Linked DNA regions of Homo sapiens: region 1 is linked to region 2. Evidence: fine-mapped expression QTL. Tissue or cell type: whole blood. Region 2 holds a variant in brackets; the other region holds the start of a gene. All regions are shown on one strand. Distances are between the middles of the regions.

The links.
Region 1: MMD starts here. The variant in region 2 is fine-mapped to the expression of MMD in whole blood (TOPMed, PIP above 0.99).

What each region holds. Positions count from the first base shown.
Region 1 is chr17:55,410,212-55,425,123 of GRCh38, forward strand. MMD (monocyte to macrophage differentiation associated) reads right to left here and starts at 11,624. Exons shown (of 7, transcript NM_012329.3): 1 at 11,459-11,624; 2 at 3,940-4,021; 3 at 1,046-1,206. The coding sequence starts at 11,484. RefSeq lists a silencer at 11,565-12,024.
Region 2 is chr17:55,387,064-55,402,482 of GRCh38, forward strand. It overlaps MMD (monocyte to macrophage differentiation associated), which reads right to left. Exons shown (of 7, transcript NM_012329.3): 6 at 14,406-14,475; 7 at 5,559-7,471. The coding sequence ends at 7,271. Among named protein-coding and RNA genes, the nearest start is that of MMD, 27 kb to the right of the region's middle. The variant T/C (reference allele first, on the strand shown) is at 6,834.

The DNA.
Region 1 (14,912 bases), 23 kb after region 2:
TCCTCCCAGCTCTAAAACTCTAGGATTCTGCATGTGAGGAAACCAGTAATCATCTCATAAATCTCAAATCCTGCTTGTAAAAGGAGCATATATTTTAAATATCAGATTGTTTGAATAGTTTGAGTTTTTTTTGGACGTTCTTTAAAACCAAAAGGCATATTCGAGTATTTCTTTAAATTGCTCATAGTCTGCTCTGAAACTTCCTTTTTTGAAAAGAAGTTTTGCCCTTTAGGGTTGTGCAGAATCCATTTCACAAGCAAACCATTCCCACCTAAATGGTGTGGTGCTCCAAAATCAATCCTTCACTCAGAGGAGGAAAGCGTTTACGTTCTTCTCATTGGCAGGCCAAGAGCTATAGTATTGTTTTGAAAGTGCTTGACTATTAATAGCAAAATACGTGAACTCTGTTTGAATAATATACACAAGACTTAATTCTGAAAGCTAAACTTTGCAAAATGGTAAACGCAAACTATAAGTATACCTTCATACCTCACACACTCATAGGGTCTTTTGTAATTTTCAAGTTATTTTCAAGTACCTTATCTCATTCACCTATCACACTGACTGTGTGACTCAGGTATTATTATTCTCATTTTAGTGATACAGATACTGAGGCTCCACAAGGTCAAGTGATTTACCCAAAATTAAAGAGCAGGGCTGGGCCTCAAAGCCTGCCTGCTGACTCCAAGCTCAGTGTGCTTTGTCACTACCCCATAGCTGCTGCTCTCATCATATCCTTAGTGTGCTTGATAGTACTGGAAAATAGCTCTCAGGTTTTTAAGTGGTAAGTCCTGGGGAATCAGTTAGGTTTTGTTTGGGGTTACTGAGCAAAGGCCTACCTTCTTAGATGCCTGCTGGGGAGGAGTCCTAAAACTTCATCCAGTCCAAAGAACAAGTCCTGAATAATGGGATAGTATTCTAGTCTACAAGGCAGAAAAATGTCTACTCTTTGCCCTACTTGACTAAAGCATGCCAGCTTGGAAGGGTACCAAACACGTTGAGTCAACTATTTGGATCTGTTGAAACAGCATGTCATCCACTGTACCTTAAGTGGCTCTTTTTCCATGATACAATGTGAAATACTGTAGAAACGATGAAGAGGGCACAGAGTCCCATTCCATAAATCCATGCTGTTATCTTTTCCCAGCAGTCATCAGACAGCCGATGGAGGAGGGCACTGCCCACGATGGCCGGAACAATGAGGAACTGAGGGAAAGATAAAGAATGGTGAATGGAATATTCTGGCTTTTATGGAATTGAGTCTTTTACTAAAAATACAGAGCTTTACCAGGAACAATTTTAGTAAAATAATCTTAGAGCAAGTATTTGTCTCTCCTGGATAATCATAACGAGAGCCAGATGAAGTTAGCTGCTACACTGGAAAGCAGGTAATACCACTCAGGGTCCAGGAATTGTGCCAACCAGTGGGGATACAATTAAGCCATCAAGGATGCAACATCATTCAGCTGTTGCAAAACAGATGGTTTTTTTTTTTTATCCTAATTTCATTAAATAAGGACATGTTTCATTCTACTTTATAATCTGATTTAGAGTAATTACTTAAAATATTCAAATGCCAAGCAGGCAGGGTGTGGTAGCTCATGACTGTAATCCCAGCACTTTGGGAGGCTGAGGCAGGAGAATCGCTTGAGCCCTGGAGTTCCAGACCAGCCTGGGCAACACAGCAAGACTCTGTATCTACAAAAATTTAAAAAATTCGCCAGGCATGGTGGCAAACACCTGTAGTCCCAGCTATTTGGCAGGCTGAGGTGGGAAGACTGCTTGGGCCTGAAAGGTTGAGGCTACAGTGAGCCATGATTGTACCACTGAACTCCAACCTGGGAGGCAGAGTGAGACCCCATTTCAAAAAACAGCCAAGCATATACTCAGATTTTTCAGGGAGGTCCTCATTTTAAAATATCTGTCCTATTGCAATTGAAATCTCAATATTTCAGGACAGGATAATTGAACAAATCAAGTAATAGGTATTATAATGTACATAGCAACACACACATACAAAAAGTCAGTTGTTGAAGTTATATACCCTGATTTTCAGTTTGGATCTGTACATTCCACCAATTTGAGAGCTACTGCAGAATGTAAGAGTTTTGGGGTCACTTCATTTTTAACAGAGCCTTTTAAGTAAGCAAGAGCAAACCATTTCCAAGGCCCACCTATTCAAAAAATCTTGAGAATTTTAGAGAGATTTGCTTTCTGCATCATATTTCATAGTCCACATGGTCACAAACTTTAATGTCTAGTCATATGTGTATGACTATGACTAGTAAACATCTTACAATGACAGAAGCTCCCAGGAGAATAAACTACTTTATTAGATATTAGAGTAAGCATACTTGACAAAGAATACAAATGTTAGCAATTTGCTTATCTTTTTTCTCCCCAAACCTACATTTGTCACCTTGCAACAGACTATTAAATCCCCTAGATGAGACTGGCATGAGTTTTTCAGATGCTGAAGTTTTCGTTGGCCCAAGCAAAATTAGAACATTAAATACAATTGCATCTCCTCCGGGAAGCAATGGCCACTGTAGGGGTGAGAGTCTATGGCTCGCCTTCCTATTTCAGAGGATTTAAGTACATTTAAGTACAATAAAGTTTTTCATAAAACAAAATGTATTTCATTTAAAGGAATGCCCTTTATCTTGAGATCATGTCCTTACTACTTTTCATGTTAAAGTATCTTCTCTTCAATGAAATGATGACAATAGGGGTGTTTTGTCTGTGTTAGAAATATTACTGGTCCCTGAAATCCAAAAATTCAAGATACGGTTTAATAAGATTATATTTTCTGTTCTAAAAAAATTAATATGGGGGTTTTGTCAGGTCTCCCTTTACTTAAGTTTACACAAGTGTTCCTTAACCTGTGACACACTCAGAAGAGACAAGTTAAGGTTTATTCAGGTTCATCCGAGTAAATATTATTCCTAAAGGTAAGCTGTGTGTTTCAATATCTGAACCATTGTATTGTACCAACAGTGACTACCACAGTTAAACTAGCCTGTTCCAAACACTCATTGTTAAAGAAGCAAACTGGTCTTTTCTCTATTTCTTGTTTTCAGACTGTATCCCAGCCACTATTTTTCCCTCAATGTCACTAAATGCAAGGGAATAATGAAACCACAGGTAAAGTAAAAAATTTATAATGACATAAGAAATGCCATTAATGTCACATTAACAGGAAAACTGAAAATACATACATATTCACAAACACCCCCAACACAGAGACACACATATACACACACACATACACACAAACACACACACAAAGAAATGCACCGAAGTGTTAACAGTTTATTTCTGGTTAGTTTTGTTTTTCTTATATATTTTTCAGTATTTTTAAAGTTTCTTATAATAAGCATGTTTTGCTTTTACAAAGCAGAAAAAAATTAACAAAAAATTTAGGGATCACATCGGCTTTTTCTTCACCAATATGGAATAACATCTCCTCTGGGAAGCAATGGCCACTGTAGGAGTGGGAGGCTATGGCTCCCCTCCCCATTTCAGAGGATCACTTAATTTTAAAAAGCATCTTTTTCAACAAACTGTGAACTCTCTTTGCCAAATGAACACAGTTGATTGTCTTGAAAAGGCGATTCATTTCATTCTAGGGGTGACAGTCTTCATAAATAGGTGTCTTTGGTTTTTCTATAACTAGGGTACATACTATTATTATTCCTTTAAAGAATATCTTGTTGGAGAAAGCGAATCCAGGACAGAGCTGACTGTAGGTTAGAACACACAAAGCATTCTACATGCTTACATAGTTTCTGGTGACACGACCCAGAACTGATTTCCTGGTAGATAAGGTCACAGATGGGTAAATCCAACTAATTGTGCTGAGGTTACTAGAGATAACTACCCCTTCCTCCCACCAAAGCCCCGTGGAAAGGATGGCAATGGTGGAAAACTTGTACTCACTGCGTGTGTGTAACAGTTAGCAGCATGTTCATAGCAAGTTGGCTTGTAGCGGCCATTGGCTGGAGCTCGATGGTTCATGAACCTGTAAAAACAAAAAGAACACATGTAAGAAAAACTCAAAGTGTGTGAAGAACAATGAGGAAACCCACCAGTGGGTATGTGGTCTATTCTACGCAAAGAAGTGACTGGTGGAAATACCCAGTTGCGGTAATAAAGCCAAAGCCACTAAAGAGGAGTAAACTGAGCCAATAGCAATGATCCTTAAGCAAATACCCTAGTTTATTAGATTAAGCCTTCTTTCAGTTTATTCAAAAGAAAAACCTTCCATAACCAAAAGCAAACTTCTACAACCAAAAGCAAAGAGAAACCATATCCACCCCTTCAACTGGAACCCTCCTCCTCCATTCACACACACACACACACACACACACACACACACACACACACACGGTACAACTAGAAAAAAAAAACGAATTTTTCTAAATTTTATTGTCATTTAGTGAAAAGGGATACACTACATTTGAAAAACAAAGTTTCTATTTTCTCTCTTAAAATTTATAAAGCTTTATATAGGCACATCTTTAAACCCTACATCCCATGATTAACAGGCCTGTCCCACTAGTTTCCCTATATTGTATTACCAGACAGCTTAAATAAATGACACCTGGCTACCTCTAGGCAACTTAAAACCGGAGGTATGTTTTCACCTTTGTTCTTCCTGAAATCAAAAAGTCTGCTTCAAAAACCAAACACATGACTACTACCTGATTCTTTTGGCTATAAAATTCATATATACACACAAATGTGTGTACGTATCTAAATATCAAAATCTGTTACATATATAGACATATGCCCATATTCCGCACTTCCCTTTAGGCTAACTTTGTGACCATCAGTAGTACAGAGAAAAGCATGAATACCACAGAACCTAAAGAGAGGATAGCATTCTTCCATTTCAGTATGCTGAGTGAGGATGCCCTCCCCACCAAAAACCCAACCCATACCCACAACAGGTTTCATGAGGGACTCTGGATTAGTCTAATTAATCCTTTTTTTCTCAGGAGAGAAAAAAGCAGCTGTCTGAATAAAAGAAGAAAGAGGTAGATGCACAGAAACAGACGGACGTAAAAAAAAAAAAAAATTTCAACAGCATTCAGGTTGCAGAGGTCCACTGCACTCCTGTGCTTAAGAGTCTGTAAGACGTCAACAGGCTTTGCACAATAAATAATCCTTTTGCTCAAGCTAGTTTAAAGAAGTGTGAATGGGGGTTGGGGGTTGGTATTTTGTGCCACTAATGAGTTCTAACTACTCATTACCTTATTCATACACAAAATAAAAAATGGTACAGGGCTGAACCAAATGGTAGAACCAAGTTGCCAAAAATTGGCTAAAACGCATGACCAAGCCATTTTAGAGAGTGCCAAGTTTATTAATAAAAGACCAGCCAATACTCTTTCCCTGAGTTAGGAAGAGCCTGTTATCGTTAGATCAAATAAATAAAAATAAAGTGGCAGCCACTATTAACACAATACAGATAGTTCAGGTGGAAAATCCACTGGGGAATGAATTTGGGACAGTGAAGATATTTCACTTGGCCCACTGATGGGTTAAGATATTTAACTAGTGTACAAAATATGTACTTACTGAGTATAATCTACCAGATGGTTTGAAAACCAACTGTTAAAGAGAAATATACAGTTAGTAGCTTCAAAATTTATCCAAGCTATTCTCAAATATAGTTAACTATTATTAAGCATCATCTTTTCTCCCCTGATAATATTTTAAATAATTTTACTAATTTCCTAAGAGACAAGAGTGTTGCTATACAGCTCTTATTAGCAAAAAAGAAAATAATTACACTCTTGGGAAGAATGCTTTAAAAGTGTCCCAAGAATTGGAGGATATACCACATCATTGTCCTGAGACATAACAACAGAGCTATAAGTAGCATACCCTATTAGGAATTTTCAAGGCTAAAGAGCAAGGCCCCAAGATGGCTGTAGTTAGATGAAATTGAATGTGCTCTGTGTAGGGTGCAGTAAGTAGGATTTGTCTACCCACCACCAGGCTGCAGACTAAAATAGCAATTTATATCTCTGGCAGCCCAATCTAAAAATAGTCAAGCCATTACCCAGCAACAGGGATAGACTTTCACATTTTCTCCTAAAAACAAATAAACTGGATGGCCATGTTTGTGACAGCTTAGTCCCTGATCACCTGGAATAATTCACATTAAAAAATAAAAGTAGAAAGTTATACAGAAAAATATCCCACCCATGGTGACTTAAGGCACTCTATCCTGATGCACAGGGTAAGACACGGGCAATAGGGAAAGATAAGGGTAACTATCCTGGAAGCAATTCTCTAAATCTGGGGCTCAGTAGGATAGACAGCATAATTGTTCTGCTGGGAAAGTACAATACAATTTTCCCATTTCTCTCTAACCTGCCAGGGTGCAATCAAGCCTCCTCCACAGCCTCCTGAAGAAATCACTCCTAAAACCTAAATGGAAAAGCAGATGTAAAATGTAAATCAACTCCCACACTCTGGCCTTCATCTCTTCCCCGAAAAAAGAATGGGAAAGGTTCAAGTGCTGGTTATGGAAAACAGCATCCATTTATGGAAGACATCTCTATTTAAAGCGGAGTGGCCCTAATGGTTACTCAATGCTTGAGTAACCAACAAGCTCTAGAGGGTTTGAAGGAAGGTGATTCAGTCCTGGGAGTGGGAGCTGCACTTAATAAAGCTACTAGTTAGGCAGAGTTTTTTTACTCATTCCTTCACTTTCTCTTTCAAAACTCTCCTGCCTTCCCCCTTGCCCAACGTTCTTATCACCTCCTCCTTCCCCCATACCCCTCTCCCATGCCATGACAGAATTTCAAAACCATGGAGGGAAAGAACAGATCAGAGACCTGGGAACACTCCTTAGCACACTAACACACTTTAAATTCAACCTAAAGCACTGTGCCCACTGAGTAGATCTGCAACCCACCAGCAGATCTCAGAGGCTGATCTCAGTAGATCAAATCCCACAAGTGTTCCTCATTCTCCGAGTGCAAGTACCATCAACACTACCTTCAAAATATATTTCAAATAAGTCCACCTCATCACTTGAGGTCAGGAGTTCAAGACCAGCCTGGCCAACATAGAGAAACTCCATCTCTACAAAAATACAAAAATTAGCCTGGTGTGGTGGTGTGCACCTGTAATCCCAGCTCCGCGTCTCCTACCTTAAATAAAGACCTAACATCTCAGGTCTGTACAAATACAAAGTCTCTTAACTAGTCTTCCTGCTTGACCCAGTACAGACTCTCTTCTTTACATAGCAGCTACAGTTTTCCATTAGAAACAGATGAGGGGCTGGGCATGGTGGCTCACACCTGTAATCCCAGCACTTTTGGGGAGCTGAGGCGGGAGGTTGCTTGAGCCCAAGAGTTTAAGACCAGCCTAGGCGGTATAGTGAGATCCCATCTCTACACACAAAAAAAAATGTAAAAATTAGCCAGGTGTGGTAGTGTATGCCTGTAGCCCCAGCTACTTCTGACTGAGGTAGAAGGACTGCTTGAGCCTCGGAGGTCAAGGCTGCAACAGTGAGTTGTGATGGCACCACTGCACTCCAGTCTGGGTGACAGAACAAGACCCTGTCTCAAAAACAAACAACAACAAAAAACCCAGATCACATCACACACCCCAATCCCAGCTTAAAGTCTGCCTCTGGCTTCCCAAAGTGCTTACGATAGCACTGTAACACAGTGTTCAGAGGCCCACAAGCCCTGAGTGGTCTGGGCCTCACTACCCCTCCAGTCTCAGGGTGGCATCTTTCTCTCTCTCCATCCTCTGGCTATACCACCTCCTTTCTGCTCCTTAAACACATCAAGGTTGTGTCTGCCTCTGGGCATGTGTACTTGCTGTTTACTTCTGTCTAGGATATTCTCCAGAATGCTCAGCTCTCTTCTCATCCTTTCAGCTCAGCTCAGATGTCACCTCCTCAAGAGAGGTTTTCCAGACTATCCTAACTGAAGTATCATTTCAACCCTCCCCATCCAACCAGAGCCCTATGTCACAATTGGTAAGACTTTGATTTGTTTTAGCTTATTTTTTATTTCATCTTTTCCCACTGTAGTGTGAATTCCATGAAGGCTGTCTTGTTCACCTTTCCATTACCAAACTGAAGTACAATGCCCAGCTTATTGCTAGAGCTTAATAATTGTTGAATGAATAGAAAGACATTCCAGCTACTGCTGAACTATTTTGTCTTAACAAAGATATCCCATAGTCAATTAGTTTTACTGTGGACACAGCAGGTTCTGTAAGTAAGAGAAACAGGCAGCCTTGGAACCAAGAGAACCCCGAATCTCACACACACACAAAAACACTTAAAATCCAAGACAACGGATATTCCAAGGGCCCCTTCAACATCATTTATGTTGCAACGTATAAGTGGACCCCTCTTACTATTAGCTCCCCTTTATGACTGAGCATATTTGTTCAGGAAAAGTGTCTACTGTCAATAGTGCCAATCTTGACTTAATTATTAAATAAAGGAAGATGGCATATATAAGGAGACTACCCCATGCCTATGATTTAGTGCTTTAAGAACATGGGAAAAAAGACAATAGGTAGCCCTGTAAGACTTCTAATACTGTAGATTAAAATGCTTTCCCACATATCCAGTTTTGAAGCTAGCTGCATGATCATGAGGTTGGGGCTGAGGAAAAGGGCTTCTTTTTCCTTGGATTTTTGGTTGCAAGACTGTTGAAATGAGTACACACCAACAAGAAGATACAGTAGAGCTCTGTGGATCTTATGCCTATAAGATCTGTGTGCCCACACACAGATGTGGTGTGGGCAGAGAGTTAAGAGAGAGAAAGAGGTGAGCTAGCAGCATGACTGGTTGAGAGACAGACATGAAGTTGAACTCTTGGGTCTACCCCTTCCTAGCTGTGTGACTATGGGCAAGTTCCCTTTCATTCTCTAAACCTATTTACTCTTCTATTAAATGGGTATAACATTTATGTCTTCCAGAGTTATAGTTGAGGATGAGTAATATACAAGTGCCCAGCCAGTGCCTGGCATAGATAAATGGCACTCAATAAATATTAGCAGTTATTGCCATCAATCAGAGATGCTATGAAGGGGAGAGGATGACTTTGTGTTTGTCTATGTGTGTGTAGGTATCTTGGGGATACTCAAGTGTGAAACATAAAATGAGGAAGATAAAATATGCCTCTGTGTTCCAGTGAAATTTTTCACATCCTAAGTTTGTTAAGAAGCCATCATTGCATAAACCCTCCTCATGCTCCTCCATCCAGTCCCAATAAATCTATCAGGAGGGAGGAAGCATGTCTCCCTTCAAAGACAGTGTGTCTCTCCCTCCAGTTCCTTTGCAATTTACCTACCTGGGAATGCTCAGAAAGATATATCATGAACACAGCATTAAAAGATGCAGAATAGTACTACTCTCAGCATTTTAATGTGTGAACCACAAAAATCAGGACATTCTCATTACATTACTTTTTGTTTATAGGCTTTATTTCCAAGTTAAAATTGATGCTTAGAACTATGTTTCCAACCTAGCTTATGATAGAAAACCAAGAAATTATGAGATCACACAAATCTTCAAAGAAAATCAGGGTAGATCTAGATGTCATCAAGAAAGAAACTGTTAAATATCCATTGAGAAACACACAAGCCCCCAAGAAAATTACAGTCTATGCCACACCAAAAGAAAATACCTGTATTTTTAGTTTTTAAGTGAATAATAGCGCAAAAATCACATTACAACTGTGCTAATAAGGAATGGAGAGATCAGTGTCCAGCAAAAATAATTAAAAAGTCAGTTCAATAAGCTGAGAGGGTAGCATCCTAAATGAAGTTGTTGTTGTTGTTGTTTTAACAGTTTTAACGTTTGTGCAACAAATAATTGAACAGGGTTTGTTTGTTTTTTTTCTTTTTAGAGGATCCAAAGGTATAGGTAAGAATGACAAACTCTTAATCAAACAAGGAAGGGGCAATTTCACAGAATATTGCCACTGTTCTCTGAAAACAGGAAGAGCACAGACGTGTAGAGAAGTAAAACCAAATCAAACCGCATGCACAGGGCTTCACTGATCATGACTGGAGTGCATGTTACATTCTCTCTAAAAGCCCCTCCGGTCTTCATTTCTGACATCAGGTTCTAAAGTCAGAACACTACGGTTCCATTTTGCCCTTAGACACACCGGTATGAAGTTCCACTGGGGGAACAGTGCCAAGCATTCAACACCCTGACTGATAAGCAATATATTCAGAAGTCAATCCAAGTCTTCAAGCTGATCCCCTTCCTGGTGGCCCAGACCATGGCAACTCTTCTGTGCATTTGTTGCCTCCTTTACCCTTTGGGACTGGGGGAGGAATGAGATGGGTGAGAGGGCAGTGAGGGCATGGAGATTGGAAAGAAAAAAAAAATGTGTACTTTAAAATTCTGAAATAAAAGGTAGTGTCTAAAAACTCAACAACCTTCTTGGAAGATTTCATGCATTTCTTAAAATTTCCCCTGTCACTGCACCCCCAGCAAACATGCTGGTGGTGAAGGTCCGGGAATTCACACAAAGGGATGCAGTTACCATATGCCCTGGAGAGGTGAACTTTCACCCACTTAAACAGAAAAGAAAAGCCCGGAGTTCCTCTCAGAGTCATGGGCTAACCTCCATCCATTGTTAGACGGTGGAGCCCCAGAGGGGAGTAAGGCCACGGCGCCCCCCAGCCCGGCATTTCCACCAGCTCTACAGTGAATGAGCAGTCGGCCAGCCTTCCGGTGGCGCCTCCACGGTTCCTCCTCCTCGTTTCCTAACACCGGCGCCTCCACAGCAGGTCTCGCCACCCGAAAGCTAACATGCCCCTTCGCAGAGCCCAAAAATAGCACCGCCCTGGGACGTTCAGCTGGAGAACCAGCAAGGCCCCTACACGGCCAGGCAGGGCTAAGCTGGCGGAGCGTGCCTCAGTTTCCCTGTTGCTAGGGCCGTTCACAAAGCACCCAAAATGCCTAGCACCCCGCTTTACGACAAATCTCTCCGCAGGGCGCCACCCCGTTCCGCGCGCCCCGGGAGACCCCCACCCTGGAGGTAAAGGGATGGAGGCCAAAGCCAGGTCGGAGGACTCGGGGGCGGTGCCCGGGGCTGGGGTTCGGGTTCCCAGAGAGAGCCAGAGCCCAGCCTGTATGGGGGTCGGGAGGGTGAGCCCCAGGAGCAAAGGGATCCCCGGGAAGGAGGACAGGCTTGGAGTCCCGGGGCCGGGAATCCATCTGAGGTCCGCAGATCGCGAGGGGAGACCCGGGTGAGGCAGGAGCTCCCATCCTTGGAGGAAGGGGATCGCCCAGGGACAGCAGGGTGGGGAATCCCCAGGGAACTGATCCCTGGCCAAGGTGCGGGATCCACCCAGGATGAATCCAGGTGAGGAGCCGGGAGCCGTGCGCTTAACGGCGGGATTTGGGAACCCGCTTCTGACACGGGCAGCGGGACCGGGACGCCATCCCTCTCACCGCTGGAATCGATTCTTGAACCGCATTGATCCTCTGCTCCTCCTCGGGGGCCAGGAGCTCCGTCTCGTCAGCACCGGCGGCCGGGCGCGCGGCCCTCATGGGCTTGGGCTGCTCCGGAGGCCGCCTGCGTGTCCAGCGGAACCCTTCGGCCGGGTAGGGTCGGAGTGGGCCAGGCCGGGGGTCGGGACAGGGCTGGGGCCAGACCGGGCGGCTGGGGGCGGGAGGGAGGCCGCTTCAACGGCCCCAACACCTCCCGCCTCCCGCCTCCCGCCTCCCCGGCTCCTCCGCCCCGGGGCTCCTGCGCCCCGCCCCGGAGCCCGGCTCCGCCCCCGCCGGCTCTGTTCGCCTGCGTGCACCCGCGGTCGCCGGCGCGTCAGCGCGCCGGTCAGCCAATCGGCACCCCGAGCGGCGCGGCGGCTACGCTGCCATTCATTCCCGCCGGGCTCGGGCAGCGAGGCGGGGCCTCGCTGGGGAGGGGCGGGGCGAGGGGAAGGGGAGGAGCGCGGGAACGCGGCGCCCTTCTGTAAGAGACAAGTTGGAGAAGAGATCGAGGGAGGGAGAGAAGTGGTGAAGGAGGAGATGGACCAGGAAATCTTAAAAGCATTGTGAAGAAAATAGCAGCAAACAAGCAGCCCTACCTCATTCATTTTTTCTTCATCATTAATTTCTCCATCCCTCCTTTCATTTATTCCTTCATCATTTTGAGGGCCAGCTCCCGCGAGGCTATTGTGAGAGGATCCAGGGCAGAATGAAAAACCTGTCCTTGTCTGACCCTTGAGGGAGTTGAGATCTCTGAGCGTCTTCTAACTCTGAGATTCAGTGAGATCCACAAAAGGAGGAATCCTCTGCAAGGATCCTTTTATGTTATCCTCCAGTTTATTTTTTATTTTATTTTATTTTTATCCAGGCAGCTTTCAAATAAACGAGTTGACTTGAATCAGGGTCCTGTCGCTAAACCTAAACTCAGAGGGCTTCCTGGAAGAGAAGTTCAAATAAAAATGAATGAATGGGCCAGGTGCTGTGGTTCATGCCTGTAATCCCAGCACTTTGGGAAGCCAAGGTGGGCGGATCACCTGAGGTCAGGAGTTCGAGACCAGCCTGGCCAACTTGGTGAAACCTTGTCTCTACTAAAAATACAAAAATTAGCCGGGAGTGGTGGCGGGCTCCTGTAATCCCAGCTACTCGGGGGGCTGAGATGGGAGAATCACTTGAACTTGGGAGATAGAGGTTGCAGTGAGCCGAGATTGCACCACTGCATTCCAGCCTGGGTGACAGAGTGAGACTCTGTCTCTCTCTCTCTCTCTCACACACACACACATACACACAGAATGAATGAATGGGTGATTTGTCGAGCCTTTCCAGGATCACTGATGGAAGTTATATGTGTTCCCTTCCAGGTATCGTGTCCATACCCAGCCCCCAGCCTGCAGGCTAGAGACTCTGAAGTGGCATGAGGCCAGCCTGCTAGGAGTGCTCATTCGACCTACAGTAAAGCATTGGAAAGCCAGGGAATTCTGTCACCCATAATTCTAGTTCCCTTTCCTTGAACCTTCCAGAGAGGTGCTTTCCATGCTTCAATCTTCCCAAGAGCTCCTCCAGATGGGCATTATCCAACTTATTTTACAGATAAGGCTGAGGCTTATAGTGGTCAATAAACTTGCCAAAGGCAAAAGTAAGGCTCCTACCTACCTTTCGCTAACTTTAAAGACCCACCTCCTTTCAGTACGTCAGACTATCTCTCCCTGTTTTAAAGCAATACACTTCTCTAAAACAAAACAAACAAAACAAAACTTCATCTACCCGCACCCTCAACACTAAATCGGGAAAATGAACCTGGAATGAAAGTCTGCTTCTTATCAGCTATGTTGGGCCACTGGGCTAAAACATCAGTGCGGGAGGGGAAGGTAACAAAGGAGATAGCTAATAAAGATAGATGAAAAATAGCCATGTGTAATAACATAAGAAGGGTTAAAAAATAAAACAAGGAAGCTCAATTGTAACAGATGTACCACACTGTTGGGGGATTTTGATAACAGGAGAGGCTATGTATGTGTGGGAAATCCCTGTACTTTACTCTCAATTTTTGAGTGATCCTAAAACTTCTCTGGAAAAAAAAAAGTCTTTTTTTTTTTTTTTTTAAAGGGCCAGGCACAGTGGTTTGCACCTGTAATCCCAACACTTCGGGAGGTCTAGGTGGGAGGATCGCTTGAAGCCTGGAGATTGAAACTAGCCTGAGCACCAAAGCAAGAGTTCATCTCTAACAACAACAACAACAAAATTAGCCAGGTGTTGTGGTAGGCACCTGTAGTCCCAGCTACTTGGGAGGTTGAGATGGGAGGATCACTTGAACCTGGGCCACAGAGTGAGATCCTGTCAAAAAAAAAAAAAAAAGAAGGAAGGAAGGAAAGAAAGGCAGTGCTGATATATGTTACAACATGGATGAACCTTGGAAACACTATGTTAAATGAAAGAAACCAGTCACAAAGAACTGCAGATTGTATGATTCCATTCATACAAAATTCCATTTATATGTCCCAGAACAGGCAAATCTATAAAGACAGAAAGTAGATTAGTGGTTGCCTAGGGCAGGGGAATGGGAGGGGATTGAGAAGTGATGGCTAAGCGGTACAATGGTTCTTTTGGGGTCTAATGAAAATTTTCTCAAATTGTGATAATGGACGTACAATTCTGTGAATATATAAAAGCCACTGAACTCTACACTTTAAGTGGGTAAATTGTATGGCATAGGAATTCTATCTTAATAAAGTTGTTAAAAGATTTTGAAAAATTTTAGTTTCTGTAAAAAGGTTGAAATAGAAATATCTGGAGCACAGAGATCGTCTTATTCATGTTTGTATTTCTTGGATACTTTTAACAGAAACTGACACACAGTAGGTGCTCAATAAAGTTATTCATATGAACTTAATTAAAAAATAACAAAACGACAACAACACAATGAGCCAACAGATGCCAGATCACATCTTATTAGTGATGTAGGAATGTGCAGAGATAAGAAGTGAACTGAGTATGATGAGCATAATGAGGAAGAGGTGCCAGAGAGAAGGAAGTCTGCAGATGGATTTTGATTGAGATGCTGGATGGTATCACTTAGCACAAACTTTCCCACTGGGAGAACAGCTTGAACAAGGAAGAGAAGTGGTTGGTATAAGGAAAACTTTTGAGAGGCTACCTAAGTTTGGAAACATCAGTGAGAATGATACTTACCCAAGGAAAAAGAAATGAATGAGATAAAAAGTCAGATTAAATCAGATGAAATAAAACACTTTGACCTACAGTGGTCTCTTCCACAGAAATGCTGGACTATCAACTAAAGGTGACTTAAACAAATATGGTCGCAATTTTAAATTAACCTCATCTTTCCTGAAACCTACCCCCCCAAGGTAAAAGCAAGCCACAAAAGATAAAAAGAAAACACAAGAAACAGGTTTAAATG
Region 2 (15,419 bases):
ACCTCAGGCATCCCAAACACAGTAAACAAGGAAGGAAAAAAATATCTCAGCCCACACAGGTGTTGCCCATTCATCATCCTTTGCCTGGGAGGATAGGTAAGCCCTGCTTCGAATGAACCCGGCATGCTTAAATGTTCAGCTAAAGCAAAGGGTGATTCATTCACACATGAGGGTTATTCATTTGAGGGCAGAGTTCACAAGTTTCTTTAAATAATGAGCTGCTTTGGTGCTCTCATAAGTAAGAGCCATCTTTCAAACAGGCAATTCGACCTCACCCTAGCAGATGCACAAATGAATAACACAAAGTACGGGACCCTTGTTGAAAAGACAGGTAAATCAGCATCACTTTCTACTTGGTCATGCACACTGTCACATTCACTGGCCACAGTCATCTATCTGTGTGATGCCAACAAACAGATTGACAAAAGCTCCCCAAAACGTCAAATCCAGATTAAGGAAGTTGGGGGGCAGAGAATCATCTAGACTGAGCAACAAGCAGGAATTTGGCCTTTTTGTTCCTATTTTTTTTTTCTGTTATAACATCCTCAGTCCCTAGACTGGTCCCTGGCACATAGGCAACACCCAATAAACATCTGTTGAATGAATGTGTGAATAAAGGACCCTACAACATCACTGGGAAAGAAACAAGGTGGAGAAGGCATTAAACGACTGTAGTTGGAAGGAATTCTTTAATAAGCCACTAGGAGCCCGTTGGTGTGAGTCCCCCAGGAGGCATGCTCAGGTTGGCGAGAGTGCACAGATGGTGACCAAATTGCTGTCCAAATTGACAGAGTGTGGGCTCAATGTATTGAAGGCCTTTTGTTTTGCTAAGCAAAGCATGCAGCTCCTATCTGGACATAAAGAACTGCCCCAGCCTCCTCCTTTTCTACCCTTTCTCTATGAATACTCATGTTCTTGTCTAAAGAAATGTTGAATATTTGGCCAGGCATGGTGGCTCACGCCTGTAATCTCAGCACTTTGGGAGCCAGAGACTGGCAGATCACCTGAGGTCAGGAGCTCAAGACCAGCCTGGACAACATAGTGAAACCCAGTTTCTACTAAAAATACAAAAATTAGCCAGGCATGGTAGCACACACCTGTAGTCCCAGCTACTCAGGAGACTGAGGCAAGAGAATCGCTTGAACCTGGGAGGCAGAGGTGGCAGTGAGCCGAGATTGCACCACTGCACTCCAGCCTGGGTGACAGGGCAAGACTCCGCAAAACAAAAACAAAAACAAAAACAAAACACAAACAAACAAAAAAAACTTGAATGTTTAAAGAACATTGTTTAAAATGACACAAAATTATTAGAAAGGCTGGGGTAACCACATGCCTCAGTTTAGCCTCGGCCATCATTTGATCCAGAACCATTTATAAGAGCTAGAAAATGCACAGAACAATTTTAAGAGTGGTACTGAACTGTTCTTCAGGTTGTTTGTGCATGAAAAATATCCCCAGGTGGGCTGTAATCATAATTTTAAAAGCTCAGCCATATGGGAAAGAAGCACTAGGATTATTTACCCAGTGTCAATCATATGTCAGACTGTATAAACTTGACACTTTCAACATATTATTTAATCCTTATGACCGCACTGCAAGAGAAGTGATATACCCCTTTTGCAGACAGGAACTGAAGCTCAAAAAGTAATACCAAACTTACCGAAGCTCACCCAGCCAATTTGTCACAGGCTGTCTGCTTCCACCCTGACTCAACACGCAGCTCATAGATGGGATTCAAAAAACACTTTAAGAGACTTCAAGAGAACCAAATCCTAATGATCAAAAAGTTTTCCTGACCTTTTCAGTGACTGACACAGTAGATCGGGTGTGTTAAGTGTGGCCTGGCACAGAACAGCAAAGGACCTGTGACCTCTCCCAGGAGATAGGGCAAGCCTCCAAAGCCTACTTTCCCAAGCCCCCCTTAAGCCTTGCTAGTCTATTTTGACTTCACAAGTCTGACTGCAGTGAAAGTCTGAGTGATAATGAGCTGTGTGGCAGAATGAGAAAGCGTTCTGTTGTGTTGAACAGGCCCCTGATGAGAATAGCTTAACTCCCCTTGCAGAGTGGCGAGAGTGCACAGTGGCACTGTTTCTTGGAAAAATAACACCACCAATCCATTGCAGGGATGTAGGTGGGAATGGCACAGAATGTAAGAACATATTGGCACTGTCTATTTAAAATAGCAAAAGCAGTAGAAAGACATAAATGCAGTAATTCTAACCTTGTTAAACTAAAAACATTCCTCGGGGCCCCTTGAGAAACTTTTATTTTGCTGCACAAGGAGGGAGGTGAACCAGCTTCTTCGAGGTCAGTTTCCTTTGGAGATTTTCCTATTCCACTCTCCATCTCACTGGCACGTGAGAAGAGTAGACATAAACTGAAGACACCAAGTATAAATGTAGAGATTTGGAAATGAGCTCTATTTTTAAAAGGTCTTCCTTTGGGTAAACCCATCAATAAACCTTTGCCCCAGGAATGGCTCTCTTGAAAATGAAAAAAGCCTCTAGGGTTCCTGGGTTCACTCGGGTTCTGCCACTTACCTTGGGCAAGGAAACTTATTCATCTGTATTTGTTTCCTCATCTGTAAAATGGGAATAAGAAAATGATTTATCTATAAGTTTTTTGTAAACATAAAATGAGATAATCCATGTAAACTAGCAGAGTACCTGATACATAAGAAGCAGTCAGTTGTTTATTATTATTACCTTTAAAACCCAGTCATAAATATGGACGAAGCTGTATGTTCACTGCAGCATTGTTTATATTAAAAAATCTAAAGCAATCTAAATATCCAAAATTAGGCAAATGATTAAGCAAAATAGGCTGCATATCCAGTTCTGAAAGATGATGAAATCATTGAAAATTCTTGCTATGAAATGATATAATAGTAATAATAGTTTTTTGTTTTTTTTTTTTTTGAGATGGAGTCTTGCTCCATTGCCCAGGCTGGAGTGCAGTGGTGTGATCTTGGCTCACAGCAACCTCCACCTCCCAGGTTCAAGCAATTCTCCTGCTTCAGCCTCCTGAGTAGCTGGGATTACAGGCATGCACCGCCAAGTCCAGCTAATTTTTTTTTGTATTTTTAGTAGAGACGGGGTTTCACCATGTTGGTCAGGCTTGTCTTGAACTCCTGACCTCGTGATCCGCCCGCCTTGGCCTCCCAAAGTGTTGGGATTACAGGCGTGAGCCACTGCGCCCGGCCAATATAATAGTATTTTTAAATGCTTATAATAAGTAGGAAAAAGTATATAAAATTACATATGTGGCATATTTACAGCTGTATAATAAAAATAGGGAAATAAAAAATTGCAAGTATATTAAAATATATTATGATAAATGAATGCTGGATAATTTTTAGCTTTCTCTATTTTCCAAAGGATTTTATATAGCTGTATGATTTTTAAAGTAAAAATATTCAAAATATTTTTAAAAATTTAAGTTGTTGCTTCTGGAGTATAATCTGCACTAAGACCCAATGATTGCACAATTGTTTTATTTTATTACTATATTCAGAAAAGAGGACCAGAGGGAAATACGTTAGGCCAAATACTTTTTTCTCTCAAAATAATTTTGTAAATTGTTATTTCTAGGAAAGCACCAATAAAAATGCTGGACATTTTCTTCTTTAGGACATATTTTCTAATATTTACACTCTATTTTCTCATCAACTTTCCTGTGGTTGCCACGAATGTTCTAGCTGACCCTTGTGGTCAAAAAAGCCTCTAAGGCCTAAGAAGCTAAAAGTCAGTTTCCAGCTAGTAAGAGTGCTTGTGATGGACAGGATAAACCTGCTAAAACCAAAGTCTGTCCTAAAAAATGCTTTATTCTCAGTCTTTCCCTTCCACAGCAACATTCTCCAACCTTCCCCCGACCCTGCCCCTTTCATTCAACAAAACTTCTTCACTCTTGTCATAAGCCAGTGCTATGCTAGAAGCTAGGAACAGAAGTGGATGAGACTCTGTCCCTGCCTGAAGGAGGTCAGTCCCAAGACCAGAGGTAAAGACAGTAAACACAATCACAATGCACCATGACAGGGGCCATGAAGGAATATCTGTGCCATGGGGTCAAAGGAGGGCACTACTACTCATGCCAGGGGGAACTTGGTCAATGGCACAAGGGAGATGGGTGGCACCTGATGAAGGCTTGGAATAAGCAACTATTTGCCAGGTAGGAAAGGGGCTGGAGTAAGGGCATTCCAGGCCAAGGAACAGCAGGTACAAAAACACAGCTGCAAAAGCACCATGAGGGCATGTGTGTTGTGGGGGAGGCTGTGAAAATCACTAGCAGGGCTGATGTCAAGTGGGGTTCAGCTGGGGAGAGGGCCGATCAGGCGGAGTCAGCATGTGAAGAGTCCATGCTAAAGCATCTGGCGTGAATCTTATAGGATAATAGTCAGTGGAAGTTTTGGAGCATCGAGACACATGCTCAGATTTTATTTTGGGAAGATAATGCTGGTACAGTGTGGAGGATGAGCTCATTTGAGGGGTGTAAGCAGTGGCAGGGATACAAATGAGGAGGTGGCTGCTGTAGTCTGATGAGTGCTAAGTAGGTCTTTTTAGGACCCTGCAGTGTGAAGAGAGGTGAGGAACCAGACCAGGGAGTTGTGAGAAAGGCAGGGGTGACAGTTCTGGCTGACCTGTTGCATCTGGGGGGTGCAAGAAATCAAGGATGCATGAATGAACAGATGGCTGTGGCCATGCCATTAACTAAGTTAGGAAATTTCAGAAAATAGGTTTGGTGGTAGGATGAGGAAAGATAATGAAATCAGTTTGGGACGGTTTGAGTCAATATGTCTGGGAGCATTTAGGCAGTTGACTAGAGAGAGGTCTAGTCCTTAGAAAATAGTTTAAGGCTGAAGATACTGACCAAGAAGCTGACAGCACAATAGTGGGGACACTCTAGAAATGGATGAGGTCACACTGGTGACCTAAAGGACAGAACTCTTGGGAATCATAACGCTTCAAGACACTCAATCTTCAAAATTAGATTTGACAGAGAGTTATCTGAGGGATTATTGAGGTTCTAAACCATGTGAATAGTGTTTTCTTTTCTGTGTCCATGCCTGATGAATTTTTAGTTCAAGTTTTTTTATTTGTTTCTGCTGACTCTAGAAATGCAGTGGTATAGTCAATGGGAGGCTTCGGAATCAGATAGAGCTGGTTGCTGTTCCAGCTCCCTGATTTAGGATGAAGCAGTTGAACTTCTCTGGCCCTGGTTTCCCACACTACAGAAGAGGTAGAATGGCATCTAACACTAGGAGAGTTGTTAAGATTTATAATCTGCTACTTGTCTGGTTGGTAACATAAAAGACTGTCACCTCAGTCCTATAGAATATTAAATATGCTAAACCAAAAGGCTTACCTTGGTAAGGATGCATCATCTAAAAAACTTGAAATCATTAGGTCCTGACTAGTGTATTTTAAACTGAAAATGTCTGTTGATTAATGTTTGAGCTGACTCTGGCATTTCAATTATTAAAAAGTAGACTAGAAAGTTCTAAGTGACAGGGTGTATTCATTTTTCTTCACAGTCATCTAATTTAGAGACAGTGGAACAAATCCAAGTAACAACTTTATTGTAGTATACAGCACAATTTTTACATACATATTAGTGGTTTTGACAGTGTTACTTTTGAGTAGACCTTAAATGAATCCACAAAGTTAATATATTAAAAATAAAATATACACAGTAAAACAACAGGCATCCAGATGTTCAGAATCATGCAGATAGGAGTGGTTTGGTTGGTGTTATCACTGGGTACCTTGCCTATTTAACTCGCCAGCAAATACCACTTCTTCTGTTTCTCATTCCCATATAATTCATCAAAATCAGAGAGTTCTAAACATATACAAAATAAACCTCTTTTAAAGCCACATCAGTAAAAAATTTCAATTAATAAGGTTATCATCAAACCAAGAATTCCACTGATCATTTGATCAGCCCATTACTAGGAAACAGGCAATATCAGCACCCGATCTAAAGGCAAGCCTATTTCATTTATTAAAACACCAACAAGAGAGATTAATCAACAAAGCAACTATTAACAACATGTTAATCTTAATATAAGACACTGAGAGAAAAGTAAAAATAATACATAAATATCACTCCACTGAGCCAGGATATAACTCATGGACTACAGATACATGAGTTTCTACCTGTCAAACAATGCTTTAAATATTTTTTCTAGGAAAAAAAAAAAAAAACACAATATATGAGAAGATGCAAAGGAAAGGCAGAAATGTGAATTTATGCATCTAGTTCCACAATTTAAAATAAATATCAAACTGACAATATAAAGCTAAGTGACAATGACTTAACCATTGGGCACCAAACAGGCAATACAACTGCTCACTGTAATACATAATGCTCTTCAGGAGTTTCCAGCAGATGGCCATCACAACAATACTGTCATAATACAGAAAAAACATTTATCCACTGTGGAAAGAGACCCTGAAGAGAATGTGGCAAAGGCATAGAGAAAAAGTTGGATCTTTTGAAAAAGTTAATGATATCAAAATACTTTTCCATCACTGGTAAACCAAGCTAGGTCAAGTATATGTCCCAAAGCAGCACTGAATTCAGAGTAAGAGGTTGGCAGAAAAGTTTGGAAAACTGCAGTTTTTAAAAATTGGCAATTTCTCCATGCTTAATAAAACTATCAGAAGAGGTATAATGTTTGTTCGTTTGTGGAATGTTGACTGCTTGCTGCAAAAATTTACAACATGAATGAGGACCTGCAGAGATGCATATCAATGAAATATTTTTTTAAAAATTTACAAAAAACTAAAGTTTCTATTTAAAAAAGAACCATGTTATGCCAAGATGAAACATGG[T/C]AAAAAGTAGTGTAAGTTCTGTCCATGATTCTTTACCTAGTGAATGGGAAAGTAATAGAAACAATTTTCTTCTTAAAAAGGAAGGTTTGTTATTGCACTGACTTTTACAACCTGACATAGTAATTTAGAAAAATCATGTAGTAAAATCTGTAAAATTAAAATATAAAAGTCTGGTTTGTAAACATCAGTTGGCCAAGTCTATTCAGAGTCCTTCATGATAGTGGAATGGAATGAATAATTAATTCACTACCTTATTTATTTGCTGTGAGGCAGAAAATTCCAGAACACAGCCTTTATACTTTCACAGTAATTATATTCAAAAGATATAAAGTCAGTGCAGTTATTTTTTTTCTTTCCCTGTGCAATGTTTAGCTCTCACCCCACTCCCAAGTGCCATAATTGAAATAATACTGGTTTGGAGAATTAGTACAGATTGGTCATAAATGCCGCATAAAGTCCGTAGGACTTCGGTAAAGGTATTTCCAAATGGCGTAGTAATGCACTGCAGCTGCCGTGGCCACAAACAGGTGCCAGATGGCGTGGGCAAATGGAATGATGCCATCACTCTTGAAGAACACAACTCCCAAGCAATAAATTAAGCCCCCACAGGCAAGTTCCTGAAGTCCATCGGTGTTGTTCTGTCAACAGAGAAAAAAAAATAAAAAGGGTTTGATGTTACTCTGCATGGCAAGCTACAGATAACTGTAATTCTCTCTAAGGCTCTTGATTTTCTAGACAATGAAGAAGCTGTGTGAACACAATCCTGATCTGTAAACATGAACCAAACATAAAAAAAGTCTCTTATACATCGACCTGGATTGCCCTTTGGACTGACACTCTTGAGTTGAGCAAGCAATCACATTACAGGTCCCAAATGAAAAAGCAGAACATTCTGCTCATTTACAGCATATTTAAGCAAACTGCAATCATAGCCAGACATGGGAGTTCATTTTAATAAAGTGCAATCCTCTGTTCTCATCTTCCCCTTTAAATGCTTCCTTCCCTACTAAGGCAGGCCCAAGCCACTCTATTTATAATTTACATCTCAGGCAGGGTATTTACTTCCCTTTGTCCTTCTCAAACACTGTTCTACACTGATTGCTGCTTTGAGACTTCCCCTGCTTATGTGAGCTTATAGATTCCTTAAGGCTGACACAGGAAAACCGTAACTAGAAGTGACCTCTGAAATCACAGATCACATAGTACAAGATATTTCCTAGCCTTCTAGATGTCTCCAGGCCTTTTTGTATTCGAGCCTGGCCATTGCTTAGCTTAGCAATAAGTTAATATTCTTGTGTGTCTTAGGGCAGAAGGGAGAATTTTTTAGGCTGTTCTTGGTTTTCAAAGACCAAGGCCCATCTACAAGATTAAAATGGCTTGTATGAATGAGGAGAGAGAATAGAGGCAATGCTTAGAAGCTGATGAAGAAACAAGTTAGTCCCCTGGATTTCTGAGGACTAGGAATAGAAAGGAGACAGGTTCTGCAGAGTGAATGGAAACCTAAGGCAGATCACGGCAGGGCCTTGGAAGGGGATAGGTGTGTGGGTGTCCTAGAGGCCTGGGCACTGGGCAGCAGCCTTGTGTGCCCCGCAAGAGTAAAGGGAAGCTCTAACTCAGGCACCTGATTAGAATGGGCCCCAAGGCCCTCGGCTAAAAGCAAGGCAACAATAGACCATCATGAGCTAAGGACCAGGTGTGAGGATCTAGGGCCAGCTGTGAGCTTCAGTCCTTTTTCAAAGTTCACAGAAGCCCCCATGTTTTGTGTGGGATCAAAAGATGGGGAAGGAGCCAATCCAAATGGACTGACATTGGATTTCTTCCTAACCTTGGTAAGAAAGGACTTCAGCTAGATTTATTTTTATTTAAAAAGTAAAAACAAAGACAAAATACCACACGTTATTAATTCCTCAAGGTTATACAGCAATGAATACACATTATACAAAAGTATTTGTGTGTGTATTAGGAGCCCTCTTCTAGGATAGGGGTAAGGCTCTCATCAGATTCGCAAAGGGGCACAGGGACTCCCAAATAGTAAGAGTCACTCATCTAACACAACCCCCTTATTGCAGAGGTGAGGAGACTAAGGCCAGAGCAGTGAAGTGGCCTGAACAAAATCACATGGCCAGTCACTGTTACAAAATATCCTTTTTTTTCCTTTCTGCCAAAACAAGCAAGACACCAAACCAAGTACGCAGGTTAGTTTTGACATGCATTCTGTTAACTAGTATCCTCAAGATACCACATTTACCTCAACTTTCAAAGACCTAGAACATAGTTAATTCTGTATCAAAACAGAATTTTTTTTTCATTATCATTATCATTATTGTAACTATGTGCCAGGCACTGTTTGAAGCACTTCATATATTTATTCATTTAATCTTCACAACGACCCTAAATTAGGTACTATTATCTCCATTATACAGATGAGAAAACTTTTTTATCCAGTCTGACAATCTCTGCCTTTTAGTTGGAGTGTTCAGTCCATTGTGATGTAATTGTTATTATATATGAGGTACCTAATTACTGATATGGTTGTATTGAAGCCTCCCGTCTTGCTCTCTGTTTTCTATTTGGTTTCATCCATCCTTTGTTTCCGTTTTCCAATTTTCCCACCTGCTTTAGACTAAATTGAATAACTTTGGGATTCCATTTTATCTTTTCTCTTGACTACTTAACTATAACATTTATTTTGCTTTTGTTGTTGTTGGTGGTGGTGGTGGTTATTCTTTTTTTTTTCTGAGATGGAGTCTTGTTCTGTTGCCCAGGCTGGAGTGCAGTGCATGATCTCAGCTCACTGCAAACTCCGCCTCCCAGGTTCAAGTGGATTCTCCTGCCTCAGCCTCCCAAGTAGATGGGATTACAGGCGTGTGCCACCACACCTGGCTAATTTTTGTATTTTTAGTAGAGATGGGGTTTCATCATGTCGGTCAGGCTGGTCTCGAACTCCTGACCTCGTGATCCACCCACCTCGGCCTCCCAAAGTGCTGGGATTACAGGCGTGAGCCACCGCGCCTGGCCAGTGGTGGTTATTCTACGGATTACAGTGTGCATCCTTAGCTCATCACAATGTACCTTTATTATTATACCCCCTATACAAGGTTAAGACCCTTAAAACAATGTGCTTCTATTTCTCCACCCCATCCATTGTTACCATGTACTTTACTTCTACATGTTAGAAACCCCCATGTTATCTTGTGAAGAAATTAAGAAATGAAAAACAGCCATGTATTTACATACAAATTCATCATTTCTAGCAATCCTGGTTTATTTATTTATTTATTTAGAGACAGCATCTTGCTCCGTTGCCCAGGCTGGAGTGCAGTGGCACGATCTTGGCTCACTGTAACCTCTGCCTCCCGTGTTCCAGTGATTCTCCTGCCTCAGCCTCCCAAGTAGCTGGGACTACAGGTGCCCACCACCACGCCCAGCTAATTTTTGTATTTTTAGTAGAGACGGGTTTTGCCATGTCGGCTAGGCTGGTCTCGAACTCCTGACCTCAAGTGATCTGCCTGCCTTGGCCTCCCTGGTTAAATTTTTGACATTAATATTACTAAACTGTGCTAACTTCAACTTGAAGTTGACAGGGTTTTTTTGTTTTTTCCTTTCCGCATTTTATTTATTTATTTATTTTATTTTATTTATTTTTGAGATGGAGTCTCATGTTGTTGCCTAGGCTGGAGTGCAGTGGCCCGACCTCAGCTCACTACAACCTCCTACAACCTCCACCTCTTGGGTTCAGGCGATTTTCCTGCCTCAGCCTCAGCCTCTCGAGTAGCTGGGATTACAGGAGTTCTGCCATCACATTCAGCTAATTTTTGTATTTTTAGTAGAGACAGGGTTTCACCATGTTGGCCAGGCTGGTCTTGAACTCCTGACTTCACATGATCCACCCGCCTCAGCCTCCAACGTGCTGGGATTACATGCGTGAGCCACAGCACCCGGACCCTTTCAGCATTTTAAATGTGCCATTACATTGTATTCCTGCTCCCATGAATTCTGATAAAATGTCAGTGGTCATCTTCTCTCCTTGCTCTTTTTTCTCTCTCTGGCTGATTTTAAGGTCTTGTCTTTGCCTTTGTTTTTTAGTAATTTGACTTTAATGTGTCTTAGTGTAGTTTTCTTTGTGTTTATACTGCTCAGGCCTCCTCGTGCTTTGTGGATCTCTAGGTTGATATTTTTCATCAAATTTGGAAAAGTTGTAACTATTATTTCTTCAAAAAAAAAAAAAAAAAAGAAAAGAAAAACTGTAAAACAGAAAACCCAAAACAAAAAACTGCCCCAATTTCTTTCTTCTTTTGTTCATTTTTAAATCACTCTTTTCTCTCATGCTTCAGTTTGTATAGTTTCTACAGACCTGGCTTCAAGTTCACTGAACTTTGCTTCTGCAATATCCAATCTGTTATTAAATCCCTCCAATAATTTTTTTTTCTTAAGACATCACAGTTTTCGGATCTAGAATCTCCATGTGGATTCTTCTTCATAGTCTCCAGGTATTTTCTGAGATTCCTCATCTGTTTTAAACTCCCTGTGTGTGAATCTCAGTATCTCTCCCGTCTTTTGATCTGTGTCTATTGATCTGTTTTCCCTTAGGTATGTGTCACTTTCCAGTTTCTTGCCCATCTGGTAATATTTATTATATATTTATTATTTATTTTATTACATTATTATTGATTTATTTCTGATAATATTTACTTATGGTACATGCTAAGTTGTTACAGTAAAGATTCTGTTGTATTCCTTTAAAAATTGTTGAGTTTTGTTCTGTTAGGCGGTTTATTTACTGGAGGATCAATTTTATCCTTTCAAGGTTTGTCTGGGCCTTGTTATGGCAGTTCTAGAGTAGCCCTCCCTCTAGGGATAGAGTAGCTCTACTCCTAAGCTGTGGCCTTGGCAGGGTCAGCTGAGTGCCTGGGATGTCCAGCACCATCTCTGAACTCTGCTTGGTTGGAACTTCAATGTCTTTCAGCACTGGGAACTGTCCGGAATTTCCATTTATCTTCCAGCCTTCTAAGAGTTATTTGCAACTGGAGCTTGCAGAGTTTTGGCCCGTACAACATTCAGCTTGATATCTGGACAACGACTCACGGAAACTGCTTCATGGATTTCTGAAGCATCCTCCCTGAGCGGCTTCCTCCTCTTCCATACCCTGCCCCACAAACTGCAGCCATGTCAGTAACCTGAACTGTAATTTCTGTTTCCTCCACCCAGGCTGCTGTTCTCTGGGCTTTACCTCCTTTTGTTGCTGTTTGGAAAGTGTCTCCAGGGAAACTACTGGGGTGAATTCAAAGCTCATTTTCTTGGTTTCTCTTCCTTCAAGGATCACAGTCCTGTACTGTTTGGGTTCAGAGCCAAAAAAACAGTTGCCTTTATTCTTTTTCTAGTTTTACAGTTCTTTATGGCAGAAGGGTAAGTCTGAGACCCATGATTCTGGCCAGAACCAAAGATTCGCATTTTCATTCATTCTGTTACTGTGTTAGTGGCTTTTGAGGTCCTTTGTGATCTGGACTCTTGTCTAGCTCTCCAGCTTTATTACAAGACTTGTGCTACCTGCATACCTGCCCCCACCATGCATATGTACATAACTCAAGCTGGTACATGTATTTTATGTTACAAACAATGAGCTATTTTCATTTCTCCAAAGATGCTGGTGCTTCCCCCTTCTCTGGGCTTCCTTCATGCTGTATTCTCTACCTGTAACACTTGCCTCACCCCTACCATCTCTCAGCTTCTACATGTTTTTCCAAATCAGCTGAAATATCACTTCCTCTGGTACTTCTGTCATGTTCGCATAGCAGCCTGAACTTTCCCCCATCAAATATTTTATCAAATTTCATGATCTCTTTTTCTTTAATAGGAACTGCATTTGCCTGCTTGACTCTAAGTTCTATGAAGGCAGTGTGGGGGATCATCCTGCTTGATTATCACAAACATTAGTCACCTGCTATTGTACCACTTATGGAAATGTCAATTTCAAATTTAGGCTAGTAAAATTACTGGATAAACCTGCTCTTATGATACCCAGAGGGAATTTGCTTGAAATTCTACTCTATTAAGCTGCACAAACCTTGCTTATATTGCTTGGGGTGTCCTGAAATGCCTTCTAACTATATGGCCTTCAAGGCTGATTTTCTCATTTCTGTCCTTTAACTCCTCCTCCTTACCATTCCCTGTTGCTTTTACCATCTATATGTATTTTGGGTGCTAGGTAATTATTAAAGCCATCATAAACCTCGTATCTCAAAGAAATATATTTTGTTATATTCTCATGAAGACATCCCCTGAAAAAACAGAACCAGATTTGAAACTTTTAAACCTTTTATAGGTGTTTTTGTGACCAGGAAAAAAACTATCACAGAATTATGTTCTTACAGCCAGGCGTGATGGCTTACGCATATAATCTCAGCACTTTGGGAGGCCGAGGCAGGTGGATCACCTGAGCTCAGGAGTTCAAGAACAGACTAGCCAACTTGGTGAAACCCCATCTCTACTAAAAATACAAAAAATTAGCCAAGGGTTGCAGCCCGCATCTGTAATCTCAGCTACTTAGGAGGCTGAGGTGGGAGAATCACTTGAACTCAGGAGGCGGAGGTTGCAGTGAGCCAAGATCGCTCTACTGCACTCCAGCTGGGCAACAGAGCAAGACTTTGTCTCAAAAAAAAGAAAAAAAAAAAAAGGTTCTTACAATGTGCCTATGAGATTAGGAGTGAAATCCTAAGTACAGTTCTTCTGAACAATGTAGGCTCAGAAGGGTTCAAACGAAACACCTTGGGACCTCCTTAGTTAATATAGTGCCTAGAGCCTAAGATACTGCAATATATAAGCTAAAGGGCTGGTAACCAGGTGGATGGAACCATGAAGTCGTAATAATATATTTTCATTTCAAAAAGACAGACACACACAGACTTCTCAACAGTAATTCAATTTGAAAGGGAATTCAAATATATACATGCAACTGCCTATTACAGGTAATGTTACACTTTACCCACGAAAATCCCCAAAAGATATTTTCAAGCAAAGTAAAAGAAAAAAAAAAGTGCTTGCCTTAGAAAACAGAACAAACAAACAAAAAAAGTGCTTGACTTACGACTTAAAAGCAAGGGAAAGGAAAAGTAAGAGTAAAGGGATTTGAAAAATACCTCTCTGAACCTATTCTGGTTCTGATTCAGGAAAGTACCATAAAGACAGAAACATACCTGAATTTATAGCTTTCCCAAACTGTACACGGTACCTAGTGCAAGCTTACGAGTTGCTGGCACACTTCATTATTTTTATTATTTTTTTGAGACAGGGTCTCGCTCTGTTCCTCAGGCTGTAGGGCATGAACACAGCTCACCACAGCCTCAACCTCCTGGGCTCAAGCAATCCTCCTGCCTCAGCCTCCCATGTAGCTGGGACCACAGGCACATGCCACCATGCCAAGCTAAACACTTCATTATTTATAAGTTCTTTTTCTTTTGAGCCTCTATTTAATGGACATAACTTTATAAAGAAAAGCTACATATCATATCCATAATCATGTTAAGTTCCAGCAGCTTAAAAGAAAATAACTAAAATTCTGAAGCCATGTCTTACCATTGATGTCACCACCAAGGCTGGAGAGAATCCCATTGTGAGATAGAAAAAGAGTTCAACCACCTTATATCTGCAGGAACAAAAATGCAGTTAATTTAACTTATAAATTTCTATAACACCTAACAATTTACATACCAGCCTTTCCTTTTTACTTTTGAGAAAGAAATGTAAACTCTTAACTATTCAAATAAAACTTTATTTCTCAGTAGGCAACCACTAGGCCTCTAACTAAAACACAGTAGCTGAGTAACAAGGAACTAGCATTTCTCTCAGGGTTGAAAAGGCATCAAATCCCACATGCCACCTAGAAAATGTTTTCTGCCGGCCGGGCACGGTGGCTCATGCCTGTAATCCCAGCACTTTGGGAAGCCGAGGCGGGCGGATCACGAGGTCAGGAGATCGAGACCATCCTGATTAACACGGTGAAACCCGTCCCTACTAAAAATACAAAAAATTAGCTGGGCGTGGCGAGCGCCTGTAGTCCCAGCTACTCGGGGAGATGAGGCAGGAGAATGGCGTGAACCCGAATGGCGTGAACCCGGGAGGCGGGGCTTGCAGTGAGCCGAGATCGCACCACTGCACTCCATCCAGTCTGGGTGACAGAGCGAGACTCAGTCTCAAAAAAAAAAAAAAAAAGAAAAGAAAAAAAAAAGAAAATGTTTTCTGCCAAAAGTAGTTATCGTTTAACCCACTCCACCTTGTAAAATATTTCCTCTTCTGATCCTAGAGTGTCTGCTTTCATTACCATTCCAATCCAGAGCTAGAAGTGAAATTCTGAAGATGAATGGAGATGCAGCCTGGAGCCTAGTTTATCAGCAAAAAGGAACAGCAAGCCCTAAGGAAAGGACGTGTAATTTTGTTTGTCTCTTTATTTTGCACCTGCACAAACTGTAATTTTAAGGCTCATCACGTTAGACTACAAAAGATCTAAAAACCCTAAGAAATACATTGTATTGAAATTCAAATTACATTTCAGCCTAATCAAACCAGACGATAAGCTCCTCAAAGGCAGGA